2 separate regions of the Homo sapiens genome follow, and region 2 is linked to region 1. The links come from fine-mapping of genetic effects on gene expression. A gene starts in region 1. The other region holds a variant in brackets. All regions are shown on one strand. Distances are between the middles of the regions. Region 1 holds the start of TOMM34 (translocase of outer mitochondrial membrane 34). Region 2 overlaps KCNS1 (potassium voltage-gated channel modifier subfamily S member 1).

Region 1 (15,505 bases):
TTTCTCTCCACCCTCTCCCCTGGATTGCTGCATGACTCCTTTCTATTCTGTTGCCCTTCATATCATCCCTCAACATGGCAGCAAAGAGCTTTTCTCTAAAATACAAATCTGCTCATGTTGCTCCACTGCTAAAGACCTTTTCATAAAGGCTGACTTGCTCAGGATTAAGTCCAAGCCCTGAACCCTGGGTCTTGTGTGACTTGGCCTCACCAACCTGTCCCAAGCTGAGCTCCTGCCTGCAGCACCATGTGAAACCGACTTCTTACAATTCCTGTGATCTGTCACACTTGCTCACCTTTGCACACGCTGCTCTGTCTTCTGGCTAACCCCCTACCCCATATCTCTCATTCTTAGCTCACCTCCTCTGAAAAGCTCTCTCTGGCCTCCCCCTCTCCCTCTCAGCTAGCTAGGTGGCTCCTTTCTGGCCTCAGAGCCCCCTGTGCTGCCTCCTACCATGGCGCTTATCATGTTGTATTGTGCTTGCCTATTACTGACTGGTGTCTTCCTTGAGACCGGGACCTCTATGACGGCAGGAAGAGGTATGTCTCAGTCATCAGCCCAGGTCCTAGAGCAAAGTCTGTCACATAATTGGTAGATTTTGTGGAATCAGATAAGTTAAAAAGGAGGCAAAGAGAAAACAAAGAATGCTGGCAGACAAGTCAAGCCAGAAATAAAGCACTAAATACATACCATGAAGTCCCTGTTAAGGGTTTGCTATTAGTGCAGTGTTTGGCTTTCTAGCCGCACACGCAGAGGGGAAACATGATCAGTTATACAAATGACAATATCCATGAGATAAAAGCCAATAACTGCTCAGAGACCAGAAAGGAATTGCACCTGGGGAACCTCTTGGATTGGTCACAGTGCAATATACTGAACCATGTCCACAAACCATATCCTTTTAGGCTTGTCATAGCTGCTTGGGCTTGTGTCTTATTCTTCTAATTAGCGTTAGCGCTTTGAAGGTAAGTGGGGTCTGTATCTCTTTCTCATTTTGGTATCCCCCACTGAACCGGGCACAACACCTTAAACAGTGTACAATAAATATTACTGTGTACATAGATACTGTGAGGCACATGTAGGCAAATATCAATCAATCAATCTTAGTAATTGACTCCCTGAAAACCTGCTAAATAAAAAAGCAGATTTTCCTTTCTCAGCTTCCCCTACATGCCCATCGGGAGTTTTTTAAGTGTAGCCAAAGGGATCCCCTCAGAAGACAGACAAGGCAATGGCCCGCAGCCAATCAAGAAGGACAGGGAGTTGCCGTGGAGACCACCTGCTGGGAATGGAGCTCACCTGTTGATGCCTTCTACGGCTGACGTCACATTATCATCAATCTGCAGCACAGTCTTATAGTCAACATAGGCCATAGGGTACTTCTCCAGAGCCTCATAAGCAGATGCTCGCCGCAGCAGGGGCTTAATGCTGAAGGGAACCAAGGCCAGTGCTCTAGAATAGGAGGCAAAAATGTCAACTGGCTGGCTGCTGAGCCACCAGGGTTTCCCTACAGTTTCTTCCAGGCAGGGTTATCTGGAGCACTCAGCGTACAGGAAGTAATTTCTGGCCGAGAGACATGGCTAAAAACGCCAAACCTCAGAACAGGGATTTTTCAACGTAGACTGAAGTGAGGAGGAGAAAGAAGGCAGAGAAACATGAATTTTGTTAAATGTGTGTGCACATGCATCAATTTTCATAGTTTCAGTTCCCCCAAAATCAAGAACAAAAGCCTCATGGCTTTCATGCTACTATGTTTTTTTACAGTTGTGGTCTAGTGGGAATAACAAACAAGCTTTGGAGTCAGATGGGGTGGTGTCTGAATTCCACCTCTGCTGCTAACTATGTGACCCAGGTAAATCACTTTACTGCCCCAACCCTCAGCAACCAAGTTCTGGCCTGGGACACATGGTAACCGTACCCCACAGATTGGTTGTGAACACTCAAAGAGGGAAATCTGGCACAAGGCATGGCACAAATTAATTCAGCACAGGCTCTGTGAGTATGCTCACACCCCTCCTGCTCTCCTGGCTATCACCAGGGCAGGAATCTAAAGCAATGTCAGAGGACATCAGATCTGAGAACACATTTCAGGTAAATGTGAGAGTTTAATGATGATAAAAGAATATTAGACTGGCTTGAAGAAAAAGAGATATGAAACATTGTTCAGTGTCCTCTAAAACTGGTCATTCATGAATACCATTTTTTTCCTTTCTCCTTCTGAGACAATCTATTAACCTCTATTCCTCCTTCTTTCCTTCGCTCCCTTCCCCTCACATACTCCCATCCCAGAAAAGCACCTGGGCAAGCCAGTTACTGGTCTGCCACTCCACCTTATTCCCAGGTTTCAAATTGCACAAAGACTTTACGGCCTGCTTCTAACTGCCCATCCCACTCCTTTTTCGGCAGCAGAGCCAAGACTCCAAAGATGCAAGTCACGGGCCATAAGGACCAAATAAAGACTCCCATTCTCAGTGACCTGGTGAAACTCAGTGACACTTTCTTAATATCTGTCCCAGATGTAATTGATGGGATCCTTCCAAAGAAGAAACAAGCCAGATTAACCCAGCCTCCTCTTCTGAGACCCTCAGGCATCCCAAAATTACCCTTGGCCACTTACGAAGTGCAATCTTTGATGCAGTCTCTGCAGTTTCCATCCTTCAAGTGACATGCTGCTCGGTTGGAGTAGAGAACACTTTCTTCTTCTGGGTCTGAAGAACCTGCCCAGATAGAGTGGGGAAGATGATCAGTTTGGAAAATGGGTGCCTCAGGGCATTAGGATACATTTCAAACTCAGAGCTCTTTGGGCCTTGTGTTAAGGCAGTAGAGATAACTATAACCTGTTCAGGCTTGTTGGTCTGCTGGGCTGGCGTGTTTGTCATTCTTATGTGACAGAAGGACACTGCGCTTTTTGCCATTCAAAGGGAACCAAGTATTTCCTCATTCACTCATTCCAGCACTGAACTTGATAACAGACAAAAGATAAACAAGAAATAGCTAGCTTCTGCCTCAAAGAAATCCATGCTGTAACTACTTGGGTTTGGGTGGATAAATGGATGGATAGGTGTGTATTTTATTACAAAAAGCATTTAAATCCAAGAAAGAAAGAAAAAAAAAAAAAGAAAAGAAAGGGAGGGAGGGAGGGAACAAGATGATAAACGTATGATAAATGGATTGACCAAAAGTTGTAGGGGCACAAAACACCCATGAAAGACATGAGACTAGTTTTACCTGGTCAAGCCAGGGAGGACTTTGTCAGGGAAATGATAATTGAGCTGGGTGTGATGGGAGTACAGAGAACTTAATCAGGAAAAAGTCTTAAGCTACCCCATGGGGAGAATTATTAGACATTCTTCTAAGGCAGTCCTTACCCTCAGGAATCGCAGAGGCTCAAGTCCTTCACTGTGGCCACCATGATCTTTATTTACGTATTTTTTTTTGAGACAGAGTCCTGCTCTGTTGCCCAGCCTGGAGTGCAGTGGAGCGATCTCCGCTCACTGCAACTCCACCTCCTGGGTTCAAGCAATTCTCCTGCCTCAGCCTCAGCCTCCTGAGTAGCTGGGATTACAGGCACTCGCCACCACGCCTGGTAGAGACAGGGTTTCACTATGTTGGCCAAGCTGGTCTTGAACTCCTGACCTCAGGCAATCCGCCTGCCTCGGCCTCCCAAAGTACTGGGATTACAGACGTGAGCCACCGTGCCCAACCAACAATGATCTTTATTTTTAAAGATAATTTTCAACCACTTCATACCCACTAGTGTCGGCCATTATTTTAAAAAGAATTGAAAACAGGGTCTCTTTTTGAAAATTTTGAAACATACAGAAGACCATTATCTCAGAATCCACCACTAGATTTAGCACGTTATATTAGTTCCCAACTTTTTTAATTTTTAGAGACAGCGTCTCCCTCTGTTGCCCAGGCTGAAGTGTAGTAGCACAATCATAGCTCACTGCAGCCTCAAACTCTTGGGCTCAAGTGATCTTCCCAGCTCAGCCTACCAAGCAGATAGGACTACAGGTGTGTACCCCCAAGCCCAGTTAATTTTTAAAGTTTTTGTAGAGACAGAGTCCCACTGTGTTGCCCAGGTTGGTCTTGAATGCCTAGCCTCAAGTGATCCTCCCGCTTTGGCCTCCCAAAGTGTTGGGATTATAGGCATGAGCTATGGCACCCAACCCTTAAAAATTTTTTTGATAAGCTAAAACTCCAGCCATCCCCATCCTTATCCCTGTGCTCCCTCCCCAGACTCACAGAGGCCAGTACAATCCTGAAGTTGGTATGTAACATTTTCAAGCATGTTCTACATTTACATATATATGTATATATGTATATGTATATATGTATACATGTACATGTATATATATGTATATGTATATATATGTGTGTGTGTGTGTGTGTGTTAACAGGAAAGATACCATTTTATGTCTATTAAAGCATTTCCTAAGAGGCATCATATTGCCTATCCTTCTGCAACTTACTTTTTTCACTCAGTATCCTGTTGCCATGTTGATATTTGATATCTTTCATTCAATACCAACAATAACAAGCGTTTTCCCCTCTTGTTTTGCCAGGCCCAGAGACGGAAAGTACAAAGACTAGTAAAATACATCCTTGCCCTTAAGGAGCTAAGTACCCAAAACCTGTAATCCATCTTGAGTCACCAGAGTACGGTTGCTCAGAAACAGCAGTGGTGCGGTGGAAAGGGCATCAACCCTGCGATCCGGACAAGTCACTCCATCCCTCTGATCATGCGTGCCCACCTACCACATGAGGATATCACTTCATAGACTTGCTGGAAGGGTTCATTGTGTTAGCCTGTTCCCTGAGCTCTCTTCGTGATCAAGAAGACTGATCAGATAAATCAAGAGACTTGCCCAAAATTACCTAGGAAATCTGTAGCAGCAGCAGAACCAAACTCCGGTCCTTGCTAAATCTAGATACCAGGCTAGCTTTTCTATGGACCCAGAATTAACCCATACAAATGTACAAGCTTTTCCAGACCAGCTGGGGTGAGATGAATGAAAATGGCAGCAACATCAATACCTCAGCTTCTTCAGCAACTTCATCAAGTAAGGCTGCCATGAGGAAGTGGGCCTAAAGGAGAGTTTTCTAGAACAAAGAAGGGGGCAAAGGAGTGGCTTGAAACTGCAAAAAGTGCAGACAAAAAAAAAAAAAAAAAGAATGAAATCTGGAGAGGATGTGAGGAGAGGTCTAGCAAAATGATTAAAAATTTGGACTTAGCATCAAAGTCAAACAGATCCATATTCAAATCGTGGCTCTTCCATGTCTTCACTATGTAACCCCGAGGGAGCCAATTTAACTCTCTTGGACTCCTCCTTTCTAAGCATTTTATCCACAGGGCCATAATAAAGATCAAAGGAGATCGTGTCTAAAATGTCTAGCACATGGTAAATCACTCAAGAGATGCTAGCCAAGAAAAGGAAAAAAAGGAAGGCGGCAAAGGGAAATAGGTACTGAACGGTGACTCACAGAAACCAGGATCCAAGGCTCCTTTCAAAAGTCAAGGCTTTAACCAATGAGGGTTTCTGATTAAGTCACCCTGGAGAAGGGGCTTTGGGCAAAGGTCTGCGGTATGCTGACGAAAGCTGGACGCTGGGAGAACTGGTAAGAATATGCTATTCTTCTGTTTCAAACTCTCCAGTAGCTTCCCATCCAGCAGCTTTCATGCCAAGCTTCCAGTTTGGCATGAAATCCGAACTCCTTAGCAGAGTTTACAACACCTCCACAATAAATAAGGGTCTGCCTTCCTAACTGACCTCATGTCTTCCTATTCCCTGCCCTGGCTCACTATGCTTTGACCCCTGAAACACACCATGTTTATATCGTCTTGGAGGGGGGGCCTTTCTCATTGCAGTTCACTTCAGGACCGAAAACCTTGTGCGCTTGGCTTCTCATCATTTAGACATCACCTCAAATATCACTTCTTTACAGATGTTGCCCTTGATCTCCCACTCCAGTCAACTCTATCACATCACCCTATTTGTCTTCTTCCTAACCCTGATTATCCCACAGGTCTCGTTTACTTACTGACTCGCTTAAGACTCACGTCCTCCCCACCGCCCCCACAAGAATGCGCTGTCCTTGAGAGAAGGGACTTTTTGTGTCTTGTTACACAGGCGGTATATAACAGCTACTCAACAAATACTAACTGAAAAATGAATTGCTGCGGGGGAGGAGGGTTTAGCTTTCTTCTCAGGGCTCAGAACGAGGCCTAAATAACTTAGGATGGGGGCCAACAGGGCAGTTAACAAGCAGGTGGAAAGAAAGGGCCGAGGAAGTTTCTGGTAGGATGCCGGAGTCGGAAGGGGCTGGAAGGGTGGGAGGGCCGGGCAGGACTGCTGGCCGCCGCGCGAGGCCCGGGCGGTGGTTGCGGGAGTTGGAGGAGCAGGCCCGGAGGTGAGATGGGGGCCGGGGTCGTACCTTGCGCCTGCAGCACCCGCAGCGCGCGGCCGTAGAGCGCGGAGGCCTCGGCGTACTGGCCGTTGCGGAAACTCTCATTGCCGGCGGCGCGGAGCTCCTCCACAGAGTCTGGGAATTTGGGGGCCATCCCGTGGCCAGGCCGGCGAGTTGGGAGCTCCTTCCTTCCTCCCCCGTGTGGTGCGGCACACCTTCCGGGCGCAAGCGCCGGCGGCGAATATCTCCGCCCAACAGCGAACCCGCGGCGAGGGGGCGGGGCCTGCGAGACCTGGAGGCCCGGAGCGTCCCGCCCTCTGCGCGTGCTCGGTTTGGAACTTAGGCTCCCTTGCACGCGGGGCGGCAGCATGCTCTGGGCTCCCTGAGTTGCTAGAACGCCGTGGATGACGCAGGGAAGGAGGCTGGCCCCGCTATCAGGGAGATTATGTCCTAGTGGGGTCCCCACAGGCAATTAACTGATAAGCAAACGAAGACTCTCATTTCATGTGATTAGTGCTGTAAGGAAAACAAAACAGGATAATGCAATGGAAAGTGACCACGTGTGGGCTATTTTAAATAAGGGGATGAAGGAAGGCCTTTCTCAGGGGGTAATAGTTGAGCTGAGACCAGACAAGATTTAGGGAATGCTGTTCCAGCCAGAGGGATGGTAAGTGCAAAGGTTCCAAGGCTAGAAAGTACCTGGTACCTAGTGCTCTATAGATATTTATTTAATAAATTAATGCACAGGTGGATTGATGGTGTCAAAGTCAACATATAGAGATGAATCTCTAAAGTTTAAATATTTTATTTGGCAATCAAGAATTGCAATTCAGGGCTTACACACAGACCAGGTTGTCTTTGGTATGTCAGAAGAACAAAGAGAAGGTTTGGAGATTTTTATAAAACAGAAATGTTACATATTGCTCTTCAAGGAAGTTTACAGGCACTAGTAAAGTGGGGGTTTATCAGCTTCTTGGGGAGCTGGCAAGCTTTGATTGGTAAGTGATAGTGGTGGATAAAACTCAGAATTGTAGCAGGCTGTTTCAGTAGCTATTAGATAAAACTGGTTTTAGGTTACAGCAGGCAGTTTTAGCAGCCAGGCTTGCAAAAAATTACTTTTTTGGAGCAATGTTATATGCCCTGAGTATTTGTTCCCCTGGCTTTTCAATTCTGTCTTAGTTGGATATGACAAGAATGACCCAATTCGTATGATCAGCTTTCAGAATGGATGAAGATCTTTCACAGAGTGTGACTTCAATTTATCTCCAGCCTCATCTGACGACTCTATGTCCCACGCATTGCTATCTACACACACTAAATTCTTGCTTCCTAGCCTTTGCTTGTTATCTCCTTCTCCTGGATTTTTTTTTCTAAATACTTTTTCTCCTGCCTAATCCTGAATTAACTTATAACATTCCATTCAAACATCATCTTCTCTGAAAGCCTTTCCTGCTTCCAGCCCCCTCCCCACCCCCCACTATGCTCCCTTTGCTCCCTATTGGTCTCTAGCTTTATCCCTAACTTTGCATTAGTCACCCTTTGATTGCCAGTTTGTAGTTTTCCTTAAACACTGCGAGGTCTTTAATGGCAGGAAGTGGGTCCTTTTTATCTTTGTTTATCCAAGACCCTAATAGGGTCTGGCATCCAATAAAAGTCATTGATTGATAAAGATCTAGTCTCTACCTTCAGGAATTCAGTTATAATGATCTGCATACACTTAACTCCACCAGACTATAAGCTTTCTGAGGGCTGGATGGCTGTTCCATCTGAAATGCTTCCCCTTGCCCTCTGCCCCGACCAAGGATGAACACTGACTGTGGTGGGAAAACCAGATGAGGCCCATGCTGCTGGCTGGCTACTCAGTGACTTCCATCTTTGCTTCCAGGAGCCTGAATTTTGCCTGAGACTCTCCCAGCCTGGGGAAGTGAATCAGGATTGCTCTAAGCCAATTAGAAAAATGTCATTTTCTCTTGCCAGTGATTCATCAAGGGATGCACATGTGATGCTGATCTGGGCAATGAGATAAAAGGGAGTCTGAGGCTGGTCGCAGTGGCTCACATCTGTAGTCCTAGCACTTTGGGAGGCCGAGGCGGGTGGATCACAAGGCAGGAAATCGAGACCATCCTGGCTAACACAGTGAAACCCCATCTCTACTAATAATACAAAAAATTAGCTGGGGTGGTGGCACGCACCTGTAGTCCCAGCTACTCAGGAGGCTGAGGCAGGAGAATAGCTTGAACCCGGGAGGTGGAGGTTGCAGTGAGCTGAGATTGCACTGCTGCACTCCAGCCTGGGCGACAGAGCAACACTCCGTCTCAAAAAAAAAAAAAAAAAAAAAAAAGAGTCTGCTGAGTGTTTATGGGAAAGGTTTCCCTCCCCATAACAGAGAGGTACTGGGTCAAGTAGCCATTCTTGCTCTTTTTCTGCTTTGGGTAGTGCTGGGTTAAGGATATGATACCTGGAGGTGTGGCAGTCATTTTGCAACCATGAGGCAATAAACACAAGTATGAAAAGCCAACATGCTGAGTAGGATGGGAGGGGAAAAAATGAAATAGATATTGCTGAGTCATTGAATCAACTGCTGACTTATTAGCTTATTAATAAACAATAAAGGCAAGGTGTGGTGGCTCACAGCTGTAATCCCAGCTCTTTGGGAGGCCGAGGTGGACGGATCACTTGAAGTCAGGAGTTTGAGACCAACCTGGCCAACATGGTGAAACCCCATCTCTACTAAAAATACAAACAGTAGCTGGGCGTGGTGGCATGCGCCTGTAATCCCAGCTACTCAGGAGGCTGAGGCAGGAGAATTGCTTGAATCCAGTGAGCCCAGATCACTGGGCTGCTGTGGTCCATCCTGGGCAATACGGCGAGACTCTGTCTCAAAACAAACAGTAAATGCCATGGTGCTTTAAGCCAACATTTAGATGTTTTCACTTGCTTGCAGCTGAATATTTCCTGAGTGGTTTATCGGATAAGTGTAGCTGTGGCAAATTTTATTTTCCAAAAATGGCCCCAATAATATTTCTGGTTCCCCAAGCTCTTCCAGACCCTTGCCACTGCCCTATGAGGAGGTGGAGTCTGCATCCCTTCTCCTTGAAACTGGGTGGGCCTTTGTGGCCCCCCTCCACAGTGGTAATGACATTAAGTATCTTCCACTAAAAGGCACTGCAGCATCCCACTTGGCTCTCCCTCGGGAACATGCTTTAGAACCCAGGCTTTATTTTGTGAGGAAGCTCAAGAAAAATGGAGACGCCCCTAGCCTTCAGACCCAAGTGAGCTTCCAGCCAACAGCTAGCACCAACCTGTCAGCTGTGTGAAATGCCTTTTGGACAGGGCTGATTGATCCTGATTGACACCATAAACAGAGATGAGCCTTCCTGCTGAGCCATGCTCAAATTGTAGATTTCTGAGAAGAAAAAAAGACTGTTGTTCTATGCCTATAAACTTTGGGGTGGTTTCTTACACAGCAGTCAATACCTGGAAATCCCTTCCTGCAGTGCTTCCTATAAATGCCAGGACTGATAAAAACAGTACTGAAATAATTTGAAGGAGGGACAGATGAGAGGGTCAGGGGAGGGACAAGGGAACAGAGAAGTCTTCTGGGAAGAGGTGTCTTTTTTTGTAAAATAGCTTTATTGAGATATAACTCACATATTGAAAGTGTACAATTCAATGCCTTTTAGTATATTCAGAGTTGTATAACCATTACTACAACCAATTTTAGAACATTTTCATCACCCCAAAATGAAATCTCACACCTTTTAATCATCCCCTCCAATTCACCTATGCTCCCTTCCACCAGGGCCTTAGACAACCACAAATCCACCACAGGATTTGCCTATTCTGAACATCTCCAAACCTGCCAAAGCTATGCCATTAAAAGGCACTACAGCAAAGAGCATCATGCAACTTGCATCACACTGGGGGCCTGGCACAGAAGTGGCGGTGGTGGCACCAGGCAGGGCCTGATCCACGGGGTCCAGGGTGACCATGTGGGTCATGCAAATGGCATTACACAAATATGCCATGCTTGGCTAAGTTTTTTGTAGAAAAGGGGTTTCACCATATTGCCCAGGCTGGTCTCGAACTCCTGTTCTGCCTTGGCCTCCAAAAGTGCTGGGATTACAGGTGCAAGCCATCATACCCAGTCCCTTGAATACTGTTATGCAATTGTTCCCCATTTTCTGCCAGGTGTTGGTTTGAGGATCTATTAGGATACTAAAATGTGAGTATACTCATGTACTATAGTTGACCCTGCAGAACCTATGGAAACGAAAAGTCAGCCCACCCTATACACAGGTTTCACATCCCATACTGTATTTTCCAACCATGTTTCATTGTGGATGTGGAACCCTCTGATAGAGAGGGCTGACTGTATTTATTGAAAACAAAACAAAACAAAACAAGGGTTGTATTGGTGGACCCATGCAGCTCAAACCCTTGTTGTTCCCAGGTCAACTGTATATCCAGAGCTTATAGGAAAATACCTCTCCCAGTAACCCTGCTCACCATTTCTCTCTTAAGCTATTATTATGATTAGCCACGGTTTGCTATTTAAATTTAAATTTAAATAAAAATGTGGCCTTTCAGTTATGCTAGCCACATTTAAAGTGCTCAATAGCCATATGTGGCTAATGGTTACTATTTCGGACAGCACATATTTAGAACATTCCCATCATTTCAGAAATTTTCATTGGGAACACTCTGCGGAAAAAGGGGGCCATCATAATGTGAGTCCATCTTCTGGAAAAATCCTGGGAAGGGGACAAAGGAGGTCTGTTTGGCATTGTGTAATGGTAATTTGGTATTTAATTTTCAAAAATGTTTACCCAATTCCTATTCATCAGCCAGGTGTGGTGGCTCTTGCCTGTAATCCCAGCACTCTGGGAGGCCGAGGTGGGAGGACTGCTGCAGCCCAGGAGTTTGAGACCAGCCTGGGTAATAATAGGGAGATCCTGTTTCTACAAAACACCAAAAACAAAACAACAACTTTGATGTTGTGGAGTCAGGACAGTCCTGGGTTAAAACCTTTGCTCTCCTTAGCTGTGTAAACCGTGGGTCTCAGCTTTCTTATCTGTTAACGGTAGGTACTTCTTCCTAGGGCTGTTTTGAGGATTAAGTGAAAGTCCAAGATTGTGTCTGGCACACAGTAGCTTCTCAGCAAATGTTTTCCTCCTATGTCAGGGAATGGCTCCTTTATCCCGTTTTGGGCCCATGGGTGGCCCTGAAGGGTGGGTGCTCAGGTGTTAAGTTCTGTAGATGGCATATCCTTGGGAAAAGCAAGGCAATTAAAAACAGTGAGAGGTTGCTCTGGTTAAGTTTTCTCCTATAACTTTCCCCATGGGTCAATTGGGTAGAATCTGCCATTTTCCTAATACTTACTGATGGTAGTGGCATTCGGAAGCACAATAGCTGAAGCCGGAGCTCTGAGTGGAGAGAAAGGTCTGTTTCTCAGGCCCAAAAAGAGGTTACACACCCATGGCTGTCCAGTTTGGTGGTGCAGGCCCTGAAATCAGACCAAACTGGATTTAAATCCCCAAACCTATACTCTAAGCTATGTGACCTTGGGCTAGATACTTCACCTCTCTGGCCTTATGAAGTAGGAATAATAATAATACCGTCTAGGTTGTTAGGAGTATTAAATGAGGTAAAGCACTGAAAACGTTTAGGGACTGTGTTAAATCATTAAATAAATAAAAACGGGGATGACCTTATCGGCTTGACACAGGGGATTAAATGAGATAATATATGAAGACAAGTACACGGCAAATGCTTAATTAATGTTGCTTATTTTTATGTCTGCAAACTGACTTAAAGGGGAGGCCTTTAAGAAAGACAGTGGGGCAATTTGCGCGTTGATGCATTGTAGGAGAAAATGTGCAGGGGGCCCGTTGGGACCAGAGTTCAACCAGGTAAGCGGCAGAAAACCACAAATACCTCCAGGCGTTCCTGGGGCAGCGCCGCCTCCCCAAAATCACGCAAAACTTGGTTTGCTAAGAATTGTCAGCTCTTCTAAAGGAGGCGCTTCACGCATCTCAGTCTGTGAAATGGGACCCAGGACCCAGGTAGAGGTGCGTTCTCGGCCTGGGGACCGAGTATTTTGTGCGCTCCGGTAACGCAGGAAGACAGCGCCACTGACACTCTAGAGACCAGCGGGCACCGCCTGGAGGCGCCTTCACCACTTGGCGGTTCCGGGTCCGCGCCCCACCGCGCCACAAGACTCACGCCCGAACCACGTGATCAGGGCCGTGGCTCCGCCCCGCTCCCGCGCCGCGCGCCGCTTCCGGTAGGGGCGGAAAGCGGAAGTGTGGGAGGGTCTGCGGGGCGGGCTCAGGAGGTCCGCGGGAGGATGGAGCAGTGAGCGGGTCTGGGCGGCTGCTGGCAGCGCCATGGAGACGGTACAGCTGAGGAACCCGCCGCGCCGGTGAGGGGCCACTGGCTAAGAGGACGGGCATGGGGTCAGGGGAAGAAAAGGCGGGAACTGGTTGAGGGGATACACCTGTGTGGGAGTCCCCGGAGCTAAGCGACCCAGCCGATGGGGCACCTGCTGAGTGAGGGGGGGGACGTCTGGTGGGTGAGGGTCCGGCTGAGGGGAGCATCTGCTAAGGAGGTTAGACTTGGGACCGGTTAGAGGGAGCACTCGCTGTGGTGAGACTGTGCTGAGGAACGTGGGGACAAGTTAGGGAGAGTACCTGCTGAGGCCGGGCCACTCGGGGGAACGCTATCCAAGCAGGGACTCACGGAGGTGGGGGCGAATGCTGAAGCAGGGTGAGAATCTGTGAGGGATCTCTTTAAGGGGGTGGATCGAGAACTGGCCAAGAGGAAGGCCGGGTGGACTTTCTAAGGGTCTGAAGTCCCACTTGAGGGGTGCGGTGGGGGGATCTGTGGAGGGGAAAAGCTTTGCGCCTAAGGCTGAAAGCATGCGAGGAAAGGTTGAGGGTCTAGCAAGGGAGGGGATGGTGGAGGGTAGCATTTCAGAGGATGCTGTTGGTGGTGTCCCCACTGTAGGATGGCATCTTTTATTACTGATGTTCAGTGTCTTCCTAATGGTCTTCACATCCTCCTCAGCTCTTCAGAACCTGACATTGGGAGGTAGGTAAGGAAATAAGAGGATATTTTCGAGATGGGGAGACTGAGGTCCAGAGTAGTTGGGAAGTGTTTCCTTCTTTACTCCGGGTCACTGAACCCTGCCAGTCTGTGCCCTTTTCAGGCCTCAGTTGTTTTGTGAATATCAGCACCAAATCCTAGTGGTACCTGGAATTGCTTTAGTTCAAGATCAGGATGGTGGCTGATCCTAGAAAATCTCAACTCCTGGATTTCCCTTGTGGACATCCCGGGTCTTTTGCCACTCTACCACATCTGGAGAAAAGTAGGGACTAGAGACCGAAGGAGTCATGCTTCTCTGAGGTTCAGTGTGGTTACTTCTATTTCACAGAGACGTCTGACTTCCTGCAGCAGAATGAGCTCTAAAGAAGGAAGTGTTCAGGGTGTGGAAGTGCAGGGCAACCAAGAGGTGAAGAGAAGGGATTGACTGCCTGGGCAGCACTCTTAGGGGTTGTTTGAGCTTGGGGATGTTTGAGGTGCACAAACATTGCAGAAGGCAAATAGGTGGTTGGGATGGGCTTTGGATTCACCCTAGCGTAGTGTGCTGAGACTGTAATAGTAATGATTATTACACTCATATTGCACTTACCGGGTGCCAGGCACTGTTCTAAGTGCTTTCCATGTGTCCTGCTGAAGCATATGAAATTGCTGATATTTGACCATTTTTGAACCATAAAAACCTCATTTGAACTCATTTGAACCTCACAACAATCCTGTGTGGTAGATATCCCTATATGTCTGTTTTACAGATGATAAAACTGAGATACAGAGGGTAGTGATTTGCTGGGAGAAGTCATAGCAAGTAAGAGACAGAGCTAGGATTTTAATGTCTATGGGGTCTGGTCCAAAGTCCATGTTCTTTTTTTTTTTTTGAGACGGAGTCTCACTCTGTCGCCCAGTCTGAAGTGCAGTGGCGCAATCTCGGCTCACTGCTACTTCCGCCTTCTGGGTTCAAGCGATTCTCCTGCCTCAGCCTCCTGTGTAACTGGGACCACAGGTGCGTGCCACCACGCCTGGCTAATTTTTTGTAGTTTTAGTAGAGACGGGGTTTCACCGTGTTAGCCAGGATGGTCTCTATCTCCTGACCTCGTGATCCGCCCACCTTGGCTTCTCAAAGTGGTGGGATTACAGGCGTGAGCCACCGGGCCCGGCCATGCTCTTAACTGCCTCACTCTGATGCCTCTCTAAAAGTACCCCTGTTTCACAGGTCTCTGTGTATGTTAGCAGATATTTACTATAGTACCATAGTGATCCAATTATGAATGCACACTAGTTATGTTTCTTTCTGAACTATGTTCGTTCGTTCTTCTTGGTTTCTTTCTCCGAGGCCTTGGTTTAATTGAAAAGAGGATTAGGAATCTGAGTTTTGTTTCCCCCTTTGCCTTGTCTTACATAATCTTGAGCAAAGGACTAAAGTTTCTTGGCATGCTCATTCCTGTACCTTTTGGATTTTAAAAAATGTATTAAAAGCACAAGAGAAGAGCATTGCAGGACTGGGTTCTGAAGTGGCTGGTGATTCCCAGCTCATTGTAACTAGTAGATTGCCTAATTTGAAGCAGATCAATTTTATTATCACGTGTATCAGTTTATCAGGACAAGACAAAGTGTCATGGAGTGGGTGGTTTAAGCAACGTAAATTTATTCTCTCACTGTTCTGAAGGCTAGAGATCTGAAATCAAGGCATTGTCAGAGTTGTTTCTTTTGACGCCTTTGCTTGACTCGTAGATGGCCATCTCCCTGTGTCTCCATGTTCTTCCTTCTGTACCTGTCAGTGTCCTAATCTCCTCTTATAAGGACACCAGTCATACTGGATTAGGGCATGCCCATATGACCTCATTTTATCTTAATTACCTCTTTAAAGGCCTTGTCTCCAAATACAGTCACATTCTTAGGTGGTGGGTATTAGGACTTCAGCATATGAATTGGGGTAAGCTGGGGACACAGTTTTATTATGTAAGATTTTGTCCATTTATCATGTATAGTTGTTGTA
Region 2 (15,505 bases), 130 kb after region 1:
TTGTTGGGCTTCTATTATGTGCCAGGGTACTGAGCTAGTTATCAGGAATATAATAAAGATGAACCAGATACAGTTTTTGCAGGGCATTTGGGGAGTTAGCCAAGCACAAAAACACACAACATTGAACATACCATGGTAGAAGAAGGTACAGGGCCTGTGGATACACAGAAGAGGGAGTGACGGTTCTGCTGGGATGTCCAAGGAAACTCTTCTAGAGGAGACAATATACCTTGAAACTTTAAAAATGAAGAAGAGATGGCTAGATTAATAAAGAGTAGGAAGTGAGGGAGAGAAGACATCCTGGACAGAAGAGCCCGCCTGTATAAAGCCTCTAGTGTGAGATGATCACCTTGGAATCCTTCATCCTCATCTGCTGCTGCACGAAGCCAGGCCAGACGTGGCCCAGCATTCAGAGGTGGAACAGCAGGTTCCTGCCCTGGTGTGGCCCATTCTTATCCAGGAATAGTTCTCCAGCCTGACCCTAGGTTTTTTTTTCAGCCTTAAAAGTTGACCCCACGGCAGAGAGGGAATAGAGTTACATTGAAAAGTAAGTGTAGTTCTCTTGAGTGAAATTGCTCTACAGTATTTAATAGAATAGTTCCACAGTCTGTGTATATAACTGTCATGTTATTCTGTGGGCCTTTCTTGGAGTGGGGTGATAAGTGCGTTTATTGTTCCCTAACTTACTCACCTCACTCCTTGAAATATTTAGTGTACCTTCCTTCCTGTAGCCAGGGTTGATGACAGATGTTCCTTATTGATCACACTGAGAACCTATGGCCAGATGAAGGAAAGAAGGAAGGATGAAGTAAGTTTATATTTATTAAGCACTTATTATCTGCCAGGCACAATGCAGAGCCGTTTAGATGACTTCATTTGTCTTCTCACACACACTCTTAGGTAAATGATAGTGTACCCTTTCTATAGACATATGGACTTTTACAGTGTGCAGTACTGCCCACCAGGGGGTGTTTTGGAAATGTATGAGAGTGTTTTTGTGGTGATAGTGATTGAGGAGCCTTACCAGCATTTAATGGGCAGGGGCAGGTTTGCTAGATGCTCTGCAGTGCATTCTGGGACAGTCCTGCATAACAAACATCTGTCCGGTGTCCAACACAACATTCAGATGTTCCACTGGTTATTAATTTTGGTGAAAATTTTGTTTATAAACGTGATACTAAACCAAAGTTCATTTACATGTAAACACAAAGTACTTTTTATATGGTTTTACTGTTTTGTTTTTTTTAAGAATGAACTATGAAGAATGGAGAGACACTTGTAGTTTGTTTTGTTTGGACCTTTACTAAGAGTTGTTCTCCATTTCAGAAAACCACATCATCAGTGACAGCGATGCTTGTGATTTTTGAGTCACTCACTCAAGATTGGTTTAGATCTGTAGCTGTTGTTTTCACAGAAAGTCTATGTAACATGTAAACACATGGTAATTTCAGAGAATGATGAAGTACAGCAAAAAGAAAAGAACAGGGTAATGGGATTGAGAGTAACGTGTGCATGTGTGTGCATGCACATCTGTGTATGTGTAGGGAGAGATGGCTTTATATAGAATGATAAACGATGCTTCTGGAGAAACGATGTTTATAATGAGAACTGCATGACAAGAAGGAACCAGCCAGGCTGAGGGGACAGCAAGAACAAAGACCCTGAGATAAAAACAAAAGTTTGGCTTGTTGGAAGAATGGAAGGATTCTTCCATGGCTGGAACAGTGTGTACAAGGTGGGTGAAGGCAAGAATGTTCAGGGCCTTGTGGTCCATGGGAAGGGGTTTGGGTGTTATTCCTGATGAGATGGAGAGCCGTCAAAGGGTTTTAAGCAAGGAACTGGCATGATAGATTTATGCATTTTGAAACTATGCCTTCATGAAATAGTGCTCAACTTTAGTCATCAGGAAAATACAGTCAGCCCTCCGTATCCATGGGTTCTACATCAACCAACCATGGATCAAAAATATTAGAAAAAAAAAATGGCCCAGCACAGTGGCTCACGCCTGTAATCTCACTTTGGGAGGCCAAGAACTCATTTGAGGTCAGGAGTTCAAGGCCAGCTTGGCCAACATGGTGAGACCCTGTCTCTACTAAAAATACAAAAATTAGCTGGGCATGGTGGCAGGCCTGTAATCCCAGCTACTCGGGAGGCCGAGGCAGGAGAATCGCTTGGACCCAAGAAGCAGCAGTTGCAGTGAGCCGAGATTGTGCCACTGCACTCCAGCCTGGGTGACAGAGCGAGACTCCATCTCAGAAAAGAAAAAAAAATTGTGTCTGTCTTTCTTCCTTAAACAATACAGTATAACAGTAATTTGCATAGCATTTACATTAGGCATTTTGTGTAGCATTGTATTAGGTATAAGTAATCTAGAAATGATTTAAATTATACAGGAGGATGTGCATAGGTTATATGCAAATACTAGGACATTTCATATCAAGGACTTGAGCATCTGCATGCAGATTTTGGTATCCATCAGAGTTCCTGGAACCAATTCACCACAGATACCAAGGGACAACTGCACAGATTAAAACCTTAATGCATTACTACCGTGTACCCACCATAATAACTAAAATGGAAGAAATAGAAATGCTAGGTATTGGTGACGATATGGAGCAACTGGAACTCGAGTACTGGTGAATATACCCATGACCTAGCATTCCTTCCCTAGGTATTTTCTCAACAGAAGTGTGTATGCCTTTTTACCACAAGACATATACTAGAACATTCATAATGGCATTATTTATAATTTTGCCAAACTGGAAACCATCTGGATGCCCAGTGGCAGCATAAATAAATTACGTAGATTCGCATAGTGGAATACTATACAACGAGAATGAGCTACCTATAGCTACTGTGGAAATAAGCAAAAGGGTATTGTGAGCTTGCTACAGCAAAGAAGTCAGCCACTGTTACTTGCATTTTGGCAGAGACTCAAAGGCAGGCAAAGGAATGGGAAAGTAGAAAAAAAAGGAAGGCTTCAGGGATGCCCTGTTGGAAGCTGTTGGCATGGGAAAGCTGTAGGTGGGCTAACTTGAAGCAGGACATCCTATGTGATTGATTTAGGGGTGCATATTTGGTTTCTCTGTTTGATCCTAAGTTGGAAGTGGGGACAAAAATTGGGGAAGCTGTCAGTTATTAATCAAGTCCTGACCATTTTGGCTTGATTGTTACAGAAGTTATTGTTTAGCTTCCTGGATTGCCACTGGAGATAGCAATCTGTCTTCCTGCAAGTCTGACTTATAGCAGGCTGGCAACCTGGGCTATTTATTGTAGATATGGGGTTGGTTTCCTGGGCAGGTTACTGCAGGTTGTGGGTCAAAGTTCTATTTATATATATATTCTGGGATTGTCCATTTGTACATTCAGTCTCTCACTACATGCAACAATATGGCTGTATCTCTCAAACATTTAAATGAAGCTAGACACATCCATCGATGGATGAATGAATAAACAAAATAGGGCCTACACATACAATGAAATATTATTCAGCCTTCAGGAGGAGGAAATTCTGACACATGCTGCAACATGGATGAACCTTGAGGACATTATGCTAAGTGAAATAAACCAGTCACAAAAGGACAAATACATGATTGGACTTACATAAGGTACCTAGAGTAGCAAGGTCTCTTCATAGAGACAAAGTAGAATGGTGGTTGGCAGAGGGAGGGAGAGAGGGATGGGGAGTTAGTGTTTAATGGGCCCAGAGTTTCAGTTGAGGAAGATGAAAAAGCTCTGGAGACAGATGTTCTTACAACAATGTGAGTGTACTTAATGCCACAGAACTTTACACTTAAAAATGGTTGAAATGGTAAATTCTATATGTATTTTGCCACAATAAAAAATCCAGATACAAACTAGTACATACTGTGCAATTCTTTTTATATACAGTTCAGAACCAAGGAAACCTACTCTATGATGTTAAAAGTCAGGGCAACGATTGCCTTTGTTGGTTGTGGGGTAGTGACTGGATGTGAGTATGAGGAGGGACTACAGTGCTACTCAGGTTCTAATTCTTTGAGTGCTTGTTACACAAGTGTGTTCATGATGAGAAAATTTATCAATGTGAACTCTTAGGATCTGTGCTTTTTTTTCCCATATGTATTTTATACTTGAATAAACAAGACTTTTTGCCTTCTACTCCACTGGGCTCTTTTAGAAGCTTCCAAGACCATGGATGGGAAGGCCCCTTGGAAACTACCTAGGCCTCTGCAGATGTAAGGGGTGGTTACTCTTAGCCCATGAGCATTTATCCCAGCCACATCTTGTTCTGATGAATGATCCAACAGAGGCCCAAGACTTGGCAGTGTCAAGTCTGGATTCAAACTTAGGCTTCTTGACTCCAGTGTTCACTCCAGGACCCCAACTATGGCCTCAAGTGTGAGTCCAGGTTGTGATCTCTAGATAAGCAAACCCCTTCCTTTCCCAGTGCCCTCTGCTTGGAGTTGCTTTGCCCTCCAGAGGAAAACAAGAGCCCTGGTAGAGGCTGCTGAGCTCTATTTCCTTGCTTTGCATTTTTTGGGCTTCTTTAATATTTAACCTTGTGCCAGGCATTTTCATACATATTATCTTACTTGAACTTGCCCATAACGCTCTGAGGTGTAGGTGTTATTAAACCAAGATAAGTGAAGAAACAGGCTCAGAGAGACAAAGAAACCCAACCAAGATCACACACCTCATAAGAAGCAGATTCAAGCCCAACTTGCTGGACTTAACCACATTCTTTCCTCTGCATCGCATGGCATCCCTCATATTCTCCCATTTTATTCAAATATTGTAAATAACTCACTGTCTGAAGCCAACACAGAAACACAGAGCAGAGAGAGAAGCAGGGAAAAATGACAAGATGACTTCAGTGGAACCTCTGGATCCACCTGTACTTAAGTCACTTTGTTGGGTCTCTTTCACTTGTACCTGAAAGATTCCTTATTGATCTAGGTATGTAGGAAAAGATGGCAGGGAGGTGGGGTGGGGGTTGGATACCAGTTGGGGGTTGGTCCTGATAATAATACCCCTTAGAGGTCAACAGGTCCAATCTAGGGTCACACACTGATGAGTGGCAGGGCCAATATTTGAACCCAGATGTGACTTCAAAAACCAAGGTGTGTGCAATTCTTCCTCTTGAATGAATGAATTTCTTGAGGGTTCTGAACTCTACCCTTCTGAGCAAGGTTAAATACCAGTCTACAACTGCCCTTGTCCTTTTCTTCCTTTCTAGCAGACAGGATTCTGAAAGACATTCCCTGTGCCACCCCCTCCCCTTCCTTCTCAAAGACTCCTGTCTTAGAAGATTATCTTCTCAACTTACTAACTTCCTGGAGAATTCTTTCCACACAGGCAGGGCCGGACTGGCCTGAAGTATGAGGTCTGGTATTGAGGACCATCCCAGCCAGCACCTCAGGGCTGTTTCCAGAGCCTTCAGATAGAAGAAACTCATTATAGGACGCACACTTCAAAGCCACTTCCTTCAGTGGTGCCTGGGGAGTTAAGTTTACCAGACAAAGTGATAATAGTGGGAAGTGGTGCTGAGTGAGTACAATCTGGTATTAAAAAGCCTGAGTTTGAATCCCTGATCTGCTACTTTTTAACTGTCTGACCATGGATCTTGGTTTTTTCATCTGTTCAGTGGTGATACTACTATTTTATTGTTGTTGCTGTTGTCTTGTGGAGTTGTTGTGAGAAGTATATGAGATAATGTATGTGAAACCACTTTGCAAATTACAGTGACAAGGATATGTGGAGGATGACTATTATTTGCTAGGCTATCTTCACTCTTGGGGGCTTCAAAGAGTACCATATAAGTCAACTGGAGTCTTCCACTCTGATGTCCCAGTGTAAACACCCTGCTTGGCCCTTATTTGAGCTGAACAGCTCTTCTTACTCAAAGGGATTGAGGAATGGGATTTGCTTCTTGTCTGACCTTGGACTTCTGGGTCTCTCTTTTCTGATCTGTAAAATGGGGCTGGAGAGGGGGCAGATCTTCAATCTGATAATCCCTAAGGAATATTATGTCTCACTCACAAGGGAAGTCGCCACCTTGAGGTCACTGCAAAGAGGGGGAAACTCAGTTTGTTTATCATTAACAACAAGCACATCACATCTCAGAGCCCAGATGTGCTGAGCTGTCCCACATGCCCCCAGTTGCTCCCTAACATCTCTGGACATTATCCTTCCATTTTACAGAAGTTGAAACTGAAGACCAAGAGAGCAAGACTGCAAGGGATTACTATGAGATCCGTCCTGTACTCCCTCTTCTGGGAACTGCTTGACTCCTACCCCAGCCATAGGTTCACATGATCCAACCCCTTCGCCACAGTTGAGTGATCCAGTCATCTCACCCAAGGTGACCAATCTCTGGGCCAATCAGATTTTTCAAACTGGAAATGGGAAGTTCTCTAGTGGAGGCGCTACAAGATACCAAACTGGGAGATGTTGGTAACCCTGTTATCTACCATGTGATGCAGAAACCAATTTCTCCGTCTGTCTATCTGTTTCTCTGTCTCTCTCTCTCATTCTTGATTTCGTCGTTGCTGAAACCAAGCTGCCTGGCTGCCATTCTCACTCAGTGGTATTGTAAAAGATATGTGTTGGTTTTGTCTCCCCTGGATCCTTTCCCCTCATTTTAATGAAAGGACCCTCATCTTCCTTCAGGGAGCTACCCCTCTGCCATCTATGTCCTGGTGGGACTGTCTGTGATAGTTCCTCCCATCTCACCCCGAAATCATGTGATGAGCATATGACCCAAACCAGTCTAGTTAGACTCAATCTTCAGAGAATTTTTTAGCTTGAGCAGAGTGATTTATACAATGGAGGCAGTTGTCACTAAGCTATTTTAATTGTAGTGCCCCAAAGAGGTGATTTATGAGTTTTACCTACCTCAATCCCTATGTTGCTCGAATTGCTGTCTTTCTCAAAGCCTTGTTGTTTAATTTGACTTTGATCCTATCCAGTACCTTTCCAATGCAGTCCTTTTTTGGCTTAAGTTTTCCAGAGTTGGATTCTGTTGTTTGCAACCAAAAATTCCTAACTGATACAGAAATTGGAACTAGAGTTGAGTTGTAGACACCATATCCTCTAGGAAATGTGGGATATTTCCTAAGACTGTGATGGGGCAAAATACAATGAGGTTGTTGCTCATGCTCTAGTCTGGGAAGCCAGCAATGGTCTGCAATGGTAAAGACCTATGTCTTACATTACTTCATAGCATCTGACCACTGAGGAGGCTCTCAGAGAAGGGATAACACGTGTCACAGTTAATTTTAAGGAAGTGAGGAGTGTTCAGGCTGTGTGATAGAGTATTTTGTTTCTAACCACATAGATTAATATAAAGGGAGAGTCAACAAAGGAAGCCCCAATGCCTTTTTTTTTAACATAAAAAAAATTCATAAACAGAATGAACGGACAGCATTTCTATGACTACGGTAAAAGACTCTCTTATGACTTGCAGTAGGGCCTAGTTCTCCAAATACCAAAGTTGGCAATTGATGATGCAGGCTGCTGAATTCACAGCCCTGCTGCACTTTGTGAAGTTAGGCATTAATAGGCAGTGGGATTATGACAAGTGGAATGATCATATGAGAGGATGTGGGAGAAAACTGAAAGCTCTCTAAAACACTGGGTGCAAACAATTCACACCTTTTCTTAGAGGAGAAAGCTCACAATTTTCTGCTTGCCCCATCCCTCAAGGCTACTTAGCTGGAAGGTGGGGATCAGTTTGGCCTAGAGCATGACAAGTAGACACAGTAGGTAAAAATCCTGGACCCATACAGAATTGAAGAAACTTGTTAACTGACACCATCAAAAATTTGGGGAAGTATCTGTGGAAATGGATTTTTGTGGTGCTTTATCAAGGAAGGGGGAATGTAATCTTGGCTCAGGCTGATCTTCTTGATATGGTTTCACTTGCCAGGGATTATTTGGCATTCTCTGTGCTAGCTCCAGGAGCTGGCAAGGCTCTAACAATGTGATGAGTTGGCTAATGCAAACTTAAAACAAATGCTGGCCCACGTGAAATGGAACTTAAGGGCCCCAAATCCCTTGGCATCATGTAGAAGAAGAGATTCAAAGATTTCTGAAAGACAGGAGGCTGGATTGGATCTATTTTGTGCCTCCTTCCCACAAATACCTCTAACTGTAGCCCTCACACTTTACCCTTGCTTTGAGGAAAGTCAAGAATGCTGGGTGGAGGGGCTGCAATTTGAAATAGGTTGCCTGATTCAGAGGGGAAGAAGAATGCAGAGATGTGGGAGGCCAGGCGTTGGCACTTCATCCTCAGAAATGAAGTGGGAGTGATCACTGGAATATTCAGTAGGCTCTGTATGAGGCAAGAACTCATGGTGTAGTGTTACAGGCCGAAATGATGAGGGTC[G/A]TGATCAACTCCATATACTACTGGAGGCTATATGAGTAAGCAGCAAACTGTTTCTCATAAATGCAGAATGTTGGCAAACCGACGAACTGCATCTGCCACCCGGCAGGAATGCTGAGGGCAGTCACGTCCCAAGCATAGTGTTTCTTGTGATTAGGTACATCTGAAGCCTGTTAGTAACAATATGAACCTGTGATCAGTTAAGCAGCTGACCAATCATTACCTCCTCCTCCCTGCTCTTGTTACCCAATAAATAGGAAGGACTGTGGAAGCTTGGGGGCTGCCTTTGCTCACTAGAAGCGGGGAGCTCTCTTCTTCTTCCCCGGCCCCTTCCTTTAAAATAGTTTCTTTTGTCTTAAGTTTTCATTTCTATGTTCGTCCCTTCATTCAGTCTTGTAATGACGGTCTCAGGCAGTAACAGTAGTAAGCTGTCGTAATGATGGTCTCAAGTAGTAACCGTGGCACACTGCCACAGTGTAGGGCCCTAAAAAGTTAAAGGCAACCCACTAAAGTCTTACTTGATTTGTTTAACCAGCAAAACATAAGAAACAAAGCAAAATGGAAACCAAAAACACCCTCTAGTTCTGGCAAAAAAAAAAAAAGTCACGACTTGAGCCACTGTGTAACACTGGGCTTGCGTTTATTGATCTAAAGCCCTTTGATTGAAGGATATGCTACTCACCTTTGAGGAAGGACTCTGCTATATTGCATGAGTGTAATGTGAATATTTCTCTTGCCTTCTCCAAAAGGATCTGTGGCCATTTCCCAAGGTAAATGGATACTGGGGAAAGGGAAATACACCATTCAGGGAACCTTGATGAAGACTTCGAGCTAATACCAGTTTCTTGGGTTCAAGAGTACCACTGTAGGTCCATCTATCATGTGAAAAAGTGTTTTGGCTTTTGTCCATGCCACTGGAGGCCTAATGGAATTCCAAAACTATTCTATATCAGCAGTTTCGGAGAGATAGTTGGAAAAGATCCCCATATTGGCTCTCTGACCCATGAAGTGAGGGCCATTGTGATATAAAAGGCCAATAGAATACAACTGAACAACTGTTTCAAAATAGAAAAGTCAACGATAGTAACATATCTTTAGGGGAGGCTGCAGAGATTAGTGTTTCTACCAAAGACCTTGCAGGCTGATGACTCCAATCAAAACACCATTAATTTCCTCTGGTAGGTGCAAAATTAGATGGGTCTTGGAAAATGACAGTGGATTACTTTAGTCAGGTGATAATTCCATTTTTAACTGTTGTGTTAGATATATGCTCATCATTACAGTCCCTGGAGTCATGCATCTACTAGTTTCACTCTCTACTCTGAGGAACAGAAACCACTGGAAGCATTTTGCTATTACCTAGAAGGGATAAGAGTTTTCATTTACTGTTCTAACTCAGGCATACCTCTGTTCTCCAGCTCTGTAACAGGAAGGCCTTGATTCCCCGAATATCCCTATTCTAAAAGACAGCAAACTAATTTTGACTAAATCAGTTGACTAAATCACATTAACAGGGCCTGGAGAGCACAAAGGAGCAGACACTTCAGCTCTGTAGGTAAGACACACCTTTTACAAGGTGGGAGATAAATCCAGTGCATCTCAGTGAAGTTTCTTAGAGTGTCCAGTACCCTGGACATATGTGTAGTACTTCTATCACCACAAAAGAAGTACAGTGTTAATTTGGATTTTGTTGCTTCTACCGCTATCAGATCCTGGCTTGCTACTGGGCTTTGATGGTGAATGAAGGCCTAACTATGGGATATCAGGTAATCTGATGACCCAACGTGACAAACTACGATATCATCCATCCAGATAGAAAGTCAAGCATGCCTAGTAAGGACTCCATCATCAAGTGTATCCATGGGTACATGGGATTTGGCTCACGTAGACCCTAATGATGTAAGTTGATTGCATGAGAAGTTTGCTTTCAATCAAGTTGCATGTTTTCTGATTAAACCCAATGACCCACTTGCAAATCTATTGCTTCCTATCCTATGACTCTGAGCTCTGCTGACTTAAGAGATTTTGGTACCCAAGGGAAGAATACTTCTTTGGTACTCAAGGAAGAATACCCTGAATCGGAGACTGAGCCTGTCACCTGGACTTTCGGAGCTTTTCTTTTCCCTATGTGTGTATAAAGGGAGTTACAGTCTTGATTAGGGTAATCAACCACCCTGTCAAGGGGAAATATGGTTACTGCTACACAAAGTAGGCAGAAAGGAATGCAAGTAACTCCATGGAATTCCTTGGGGAATCTTCACATGCCAGCAGGACTAACAAGTGCTCAGATTCGCTAGGAATAAAGGTTTAGGTTACCCCATCAAAAAAAGAATCCCAACCAACTAAAGTGCTGGCCAAAGGCAGGGGGCATGACATGGCTCACAGAGAAGGGATGTTATAAATGCCAGCAGCAGCCTTATGACCATTACAGAAATGAAGACATAGCAATGGCCTCTTTTCCTCCTTGCTGTGTTTTTCTTTTCCTTTCCTCTAGTATCATATAGGGTATGCTGGTGGCAGTTACATTTACCATTTATTCCTTATATTACAGGATATTGAGACAGAATTAGTGGTACCAGTGGAAGAATGAACTTATAGCTGGATTCATGAACAGGATATGCCCCATAGGGTGTCTTTCCTTTGGGGAGATCGGTATATGTTGGTTATATATAAGAGAGTTTCCTTATGTTAGAAACATGCATAAATCGTGTGTATGGGAAAAGGATGGGAGTGTATGGTATGCTATTTTTGCTTATCAATAACTTTTGCCTTTCTTTTGGTGACAATAGGTGGTCTTTTATTTGGGTAAGTACCTTTCCTCCAACTGCCGCAAATACTAATACGGTACCTTGCCCTCCATCCCTCCCAAGAGAGAGGCATATGACTCAAGTGAAATCAGACTCTCTCCTGGGATTGGAACTGTGAGCAGGATGATACAGGGAAGGAAGTTGACTGGAGGCAGATCATGTGGGTAGCAGTGTCTTAAACAGAAGGTTCATGAGTCTTGCTACTGAGGTCCCTAGAGCTCCCCTCATTCCTGTATTTCCTGAGGCCTCGTCAGTCAGCTCTTCCTTTGGTCGGGTGAATTTCACAGATACCCTTCTGTAGTGGGCCAGATGGTGGCCCCAAACACCTGTCCATATTTTAATCTCTGGAACCCGTAACTATTACCTTATTTGGGAAAGGGTCTTTTTGCAAATGTGGTTAAGTTAAGGATCCTGAGATGAGGTCATCTTGGATTATCCTGGTGGGCCTAAATGTCATCAAAAGTGTCCTTGTAAGACAGAGGCACTGGAAGACTTGACATACACAGACACTGAAGTGAGATCAGAGGCAGAGACTTGAGTGATGCAGCCACAGCCAAGGAAAGCCAAGAATGGTGGCAGCCACCACAAACTAGAAGAGAAAAGGAGAGGGTTTCCCCCTGGAGTCTCCAGAGGGAGGGTGGCCCTGCTGACATCTTGATTTTGGATTTCTGGCCTCCAGAACTGTCAGAGAATACACTTCTACTGTTTTAAGCCATCAAGTTTGTTTGAATTTGTTACAGCAGCTGCTGGAAACTAATATATCTTCCAATAAATTCATTTTTTGCTTGATGTCAGTTTGTTGCTTATACCCTCAAACTCTAATTGTTAACAGTCATTCATCACTTTAATTATTTTATAAATTACCCTTTTTGACCAAGTTTGTTCCAACTGAATTCCTGTCACTTGCAACCTGTTCTGGCTGGCACAACCACAAAGTTTGTGCCAAATCCAGGACTGGAGCCTGAGAATGTGGATTCCAAGTCATTCCACATATTGCCCACCCTCTCCAATCACTCAGACAGCATGTCAGGGAGCCATCTCCATACAAGCAGAAACACGTCCTGGGGCCCAGCTCTTTATTTGCATAATGGTTTTCACTGATACATGGGAAGGGGAGCGAGTTGTTGCTTTTCTGCCAGGACCACAAACAGCCTCATGGTAGGCTCAGGCCAGATGATTCCCTCTTGAGCTTTCTCCACATCAGTATTAGGGACCTGTTTGTAGGGTCAGAAAATATGGAAGCCGTCGGGTTTCTTGGTGTGTTCTGCAAGACCATAAGGGTGCTACACGCAGCCCTTCTGATCTGCCCCTAACCTGGGTTCAGCTGGGCCTAGATGTAAGGAGCAGAGTGTGCAGAAGGGCTGGTATGTGTGTGGTGAATTCAAGGGAGGCCCTTTGCTGCTTAGCTCCATCCTCTGTTCCAATCTGGAGACCCAGAATCCATGCGTATGTAGGGGGCCCACTATGTACTAGGCCCTGTGTATGACACACACCTTCACACATGCCATTCTCTCTGCTTGGAGTACTCCCCCCTGGAACCTCATTTGCTTAATTAGCAATTTATCATTTGGATGGCAGGTTAGATTGTCACTTGCTCAGGAAAGCCTTCTCACTTTCTCGGGCCATGGTCCCTGATACATTATACACACCTGTACTTAGTAGAGCTCGCTATATTTATGTGATTATTGCATTAGAGTCTATCTTCCCTACTAGTCGGTAAGCTTCATGAGTATAGGGATATATTTTTCCACCACTGTATCTCTTGAGACTAGTAAGCAGCCCATAAGTCAGAAGCCAGTATATCAGAGTGGCTGGGCATAACACAACGGCATGTGTGTCTGTTTGTGGGTGGCAGCGGGGGAGACACTATGGGGAACCTGAGAGTGCATGCCTCACGCAAAGGCATTCAGATTCTTAAAATATAATAAAAACACTGTTGGACTAAGCCGAAACATGACTGCAGGCCACACATGAAGCCCCAGTTTAAGACTCTTCCAACGGGTATTTGTTGAGTGAGTGAGTGAAGAACCTACAAGGAATATATTGTAAAAACTTCAAGAACCAAGCAGGGACAGGGCAGGCGGAGCTGAACGGACCTCCTTTTCAGTCTTGTTCACACCTTTTTGAGGGCCAGGTCTCTCTCTGGCTATCTTTTTTTCCCCCTCTGAGCTTGGCACCCAGTGGGCTGTAGGAATTGGTTGATCTATTCAACATTTACCAAATACCTACTCTGCACCAAGCCCAGAGTTCAAGCAGACAATGTCTTCCATCTTGAGGCTCAGGGTGATGGGACAGAGATAGCCACAGTCAGACAACAACAGCACAGTGCTGGGTGCTGTAGCCACAGTATGTGGAAAGGGCTACTGGATCCCCTCCTCTGACTTTCTCAGCAAGTGAAGAGAAGATTCAGCAGGTGGGTATGAGAGATATGCCCCCAGCAAGGGTGAGGGGGCTGGAGCTGGCCAGAAGGGAGAGGACTCTCACACATGGGCCTGGATGGGTACTCTAGGTAGGGCTGGACAATGTAGGGCTGGACGTCTGTGTGATGGGCAGAAAGGAACTGCCAAGGTCAGACTGTTGGGGGAGGGTCTTAGAAGCCAGTATTCATATATGTCAGCCCTCTGAACATTTCAGAGCTGAGCTGGCTTTAAGTTAGAGACCCCTCTGCTCTCCTTGGCTTTCATTGCCCTCTGGGTCACAGATTCTGACCATTTGACAGAGGGGCTGGAATCTGGACTTGGGGGCAGGGATTGGACCACTTTACACAGCAGGTCTTGGCGCAGCTAGGTTGTCTAGATCTCAGGCCAGGGGCCCTTCAGATTTTCTTTCTCTCACATCAGCCCTGGGAGGAAGGTCGGAAGATTATTGCTTAGCAAATCTTGCATACCAGCTAAAGAGGCAAGTACAATGCTATGGTACTTCCTCCCAGGACTCATCCTCCTTCCCTCCAGGACTCATCTTTGATTGCTGACTCCTGTTGGATGCTCCTAGAAAGGAACCACAGCTGAGATCCAGAGCTCCTATATCCAAATCTCCTGTCTGGACCCTTCCCTGGCTCTGAAAGGGATTTCTTATCTTGTGGATCAACTCTGGGGATCCATGAATCACCAAAAAACACACGCAAACTTCATGAGGGCAGAAGAAAGATGGAGTTGATGGAGCATTGCTCCAGGCACACCAACAAGCCCAGATTCCAAACCTGACTCTGCCACTTCTAATTGTGACATCTGGGAGAGGCATCGCTCATCTCTTAGCCTTGGTTTCCTCATCTGTGAAGTGGGGATAATTCTCTTTCTCCAACACAAGGCCAAACATGACCTGGTTCATGTACAGGAGGTGCTCAGGAATCATTAGTATCCTTTCAACTTCCTCCCTCTGGCTCATGCCTGCTTCATGAATGGCTTGGAGGCAGGTTTATAAAGCTTTCTGAGTTGCTTGCAGAATCTCACAGAATCTAGGGTAGCACTGTCCTGTCCTGGGCCTTTGGAGGAAGGAATGCAGCTTTTGAATCTCATTTCTCAGGACAGCATGAGTGATCCTGGGAGGCTCACTACCATGAAGAACTTTAGCAGGGGAGGAATCTCTACTGTAGGGGCATGGCAGGGGGTCACGGATCCCTGGTTTTAATACATCTGAGGGTGTGGAGGCTCACTGGGGGCCTGGCTCTCTAGATCTGCAGACTGTCCCTCCTGAGAGGTTTCTCGGGATGTCTCCAGAGATGCCTCCGACACCCCATCAATGCTGCTCAGCAAGTCCTCAAACTCTTGGTGGTTGCTGTTGCGCACGGCTGCCTCCAGAGCCTTCTGGCGCCGGTAGAAGTGGGAGAACTTGTTGAAGATGATGGTGATGGGGAGTGCTACCACCAGGATGCCCCCTAGGATGCAGCCTGAGGCTGCCAGCTTGCCAGCCACCGTCACTGGCACCACATCCCCATAGCCCACGGTGGTCATGCTCACTGTGCCCCACCACCAGCAGGCTGGGATGGTGTTAAAGCCCACGTCCTCCTCCTTTTCAGCTGTGTAGGCCACACCAGAGAACACTGACACACCCACAGCCAGGTACAGCAGCAAGATGCCCACCTCACGGTAGCTGTGCTGAAAGAGAATGTAGAAAGCCAAGTCAGAGTGGATGGGCTTACAGTCCTGGTATTAGGCATATGGGGAAACTGAGGCCCAGAGAGTATAAAGGACAGGTCCAAAGTCAGCAAGATAGAGCTGGTGCTAAGGCCCAGGTCCCCTGACTTTAAACTAAGACCTTTCAACTACAGTTGGCAGCAAAACCCCCTGGTATTGCGCACAGGCCTAAGTTCTATTGTCCAAGGTATCTGCTAGGC

Evidence for each region. PIP is the estimated chance that this variant, and not a neighbour inherited with it, causes the effect.
Region 2: its variant is fine-mapped to the expression of TOMM34 in whole blood (TOPMed, PIP above 0.99).

What each region holds. Positions count from the first base shown.
Region 1 is chr20:44,953,769-44,969,273 of GRCh38, forward strand. It overlaps TOMM34 (translocase of outer mitochondrial membrane 34), which reads right to left and starts at 6,629. Exons shown (of 7, transcript NM_006809.5): 1 at 6,439-6,629; 2 at 2,618-2,717; 3 at 1,300-1,452. The coding sequence starts at 6,565. STK4-DT (STK4 divergent transcript) reads right to left here and starts at 12,690. Exons shown (of 3, transcript NR_038341.1): 1 at 12,349-12,690; 2 at 11,794-11,917; 3 at 10,026-11,680. LOC124904912 (a long non-coding RNA gene) reads left to right here and starts at 1,448. Exons shown (of 2, transcript XR_007067599.1): 1 at 1,448-1,852; 2 at 4,569-5,769. It overlaps STK4 (serine/threonine kinase 4), which reads left to right and starts at 12,744. Exons shown (of 11, transcript NM_006282.5): 1 at 12,744-12,835. The coding sequence starts at 12,801. RefSeq lists enhancers at 5,558-5,647, 6,428-6,477, 6,488-6,577, 13,959-14,038 and silencers at 6,808-6,887, 12,569-12,818, 14,499-14,628.
Region 2 is chr20:45,080,075-45,095,579 of GRCh38, forward strand. It overlaps KCNS1 (potassium voltage-gated channel modifier subfamily S member 1), which reads right to left. Exons shown (of 4, transcript NM_001322799.2): 4 at 11,140-15,266. The coding sequence ends at 14,796. Among named protein-coding and RNA genes, the nearest start is that of KCNS1, 13 kb to the right of the region's middle. The variant G/A (reference allele first, on the strand shown) is at 8,369.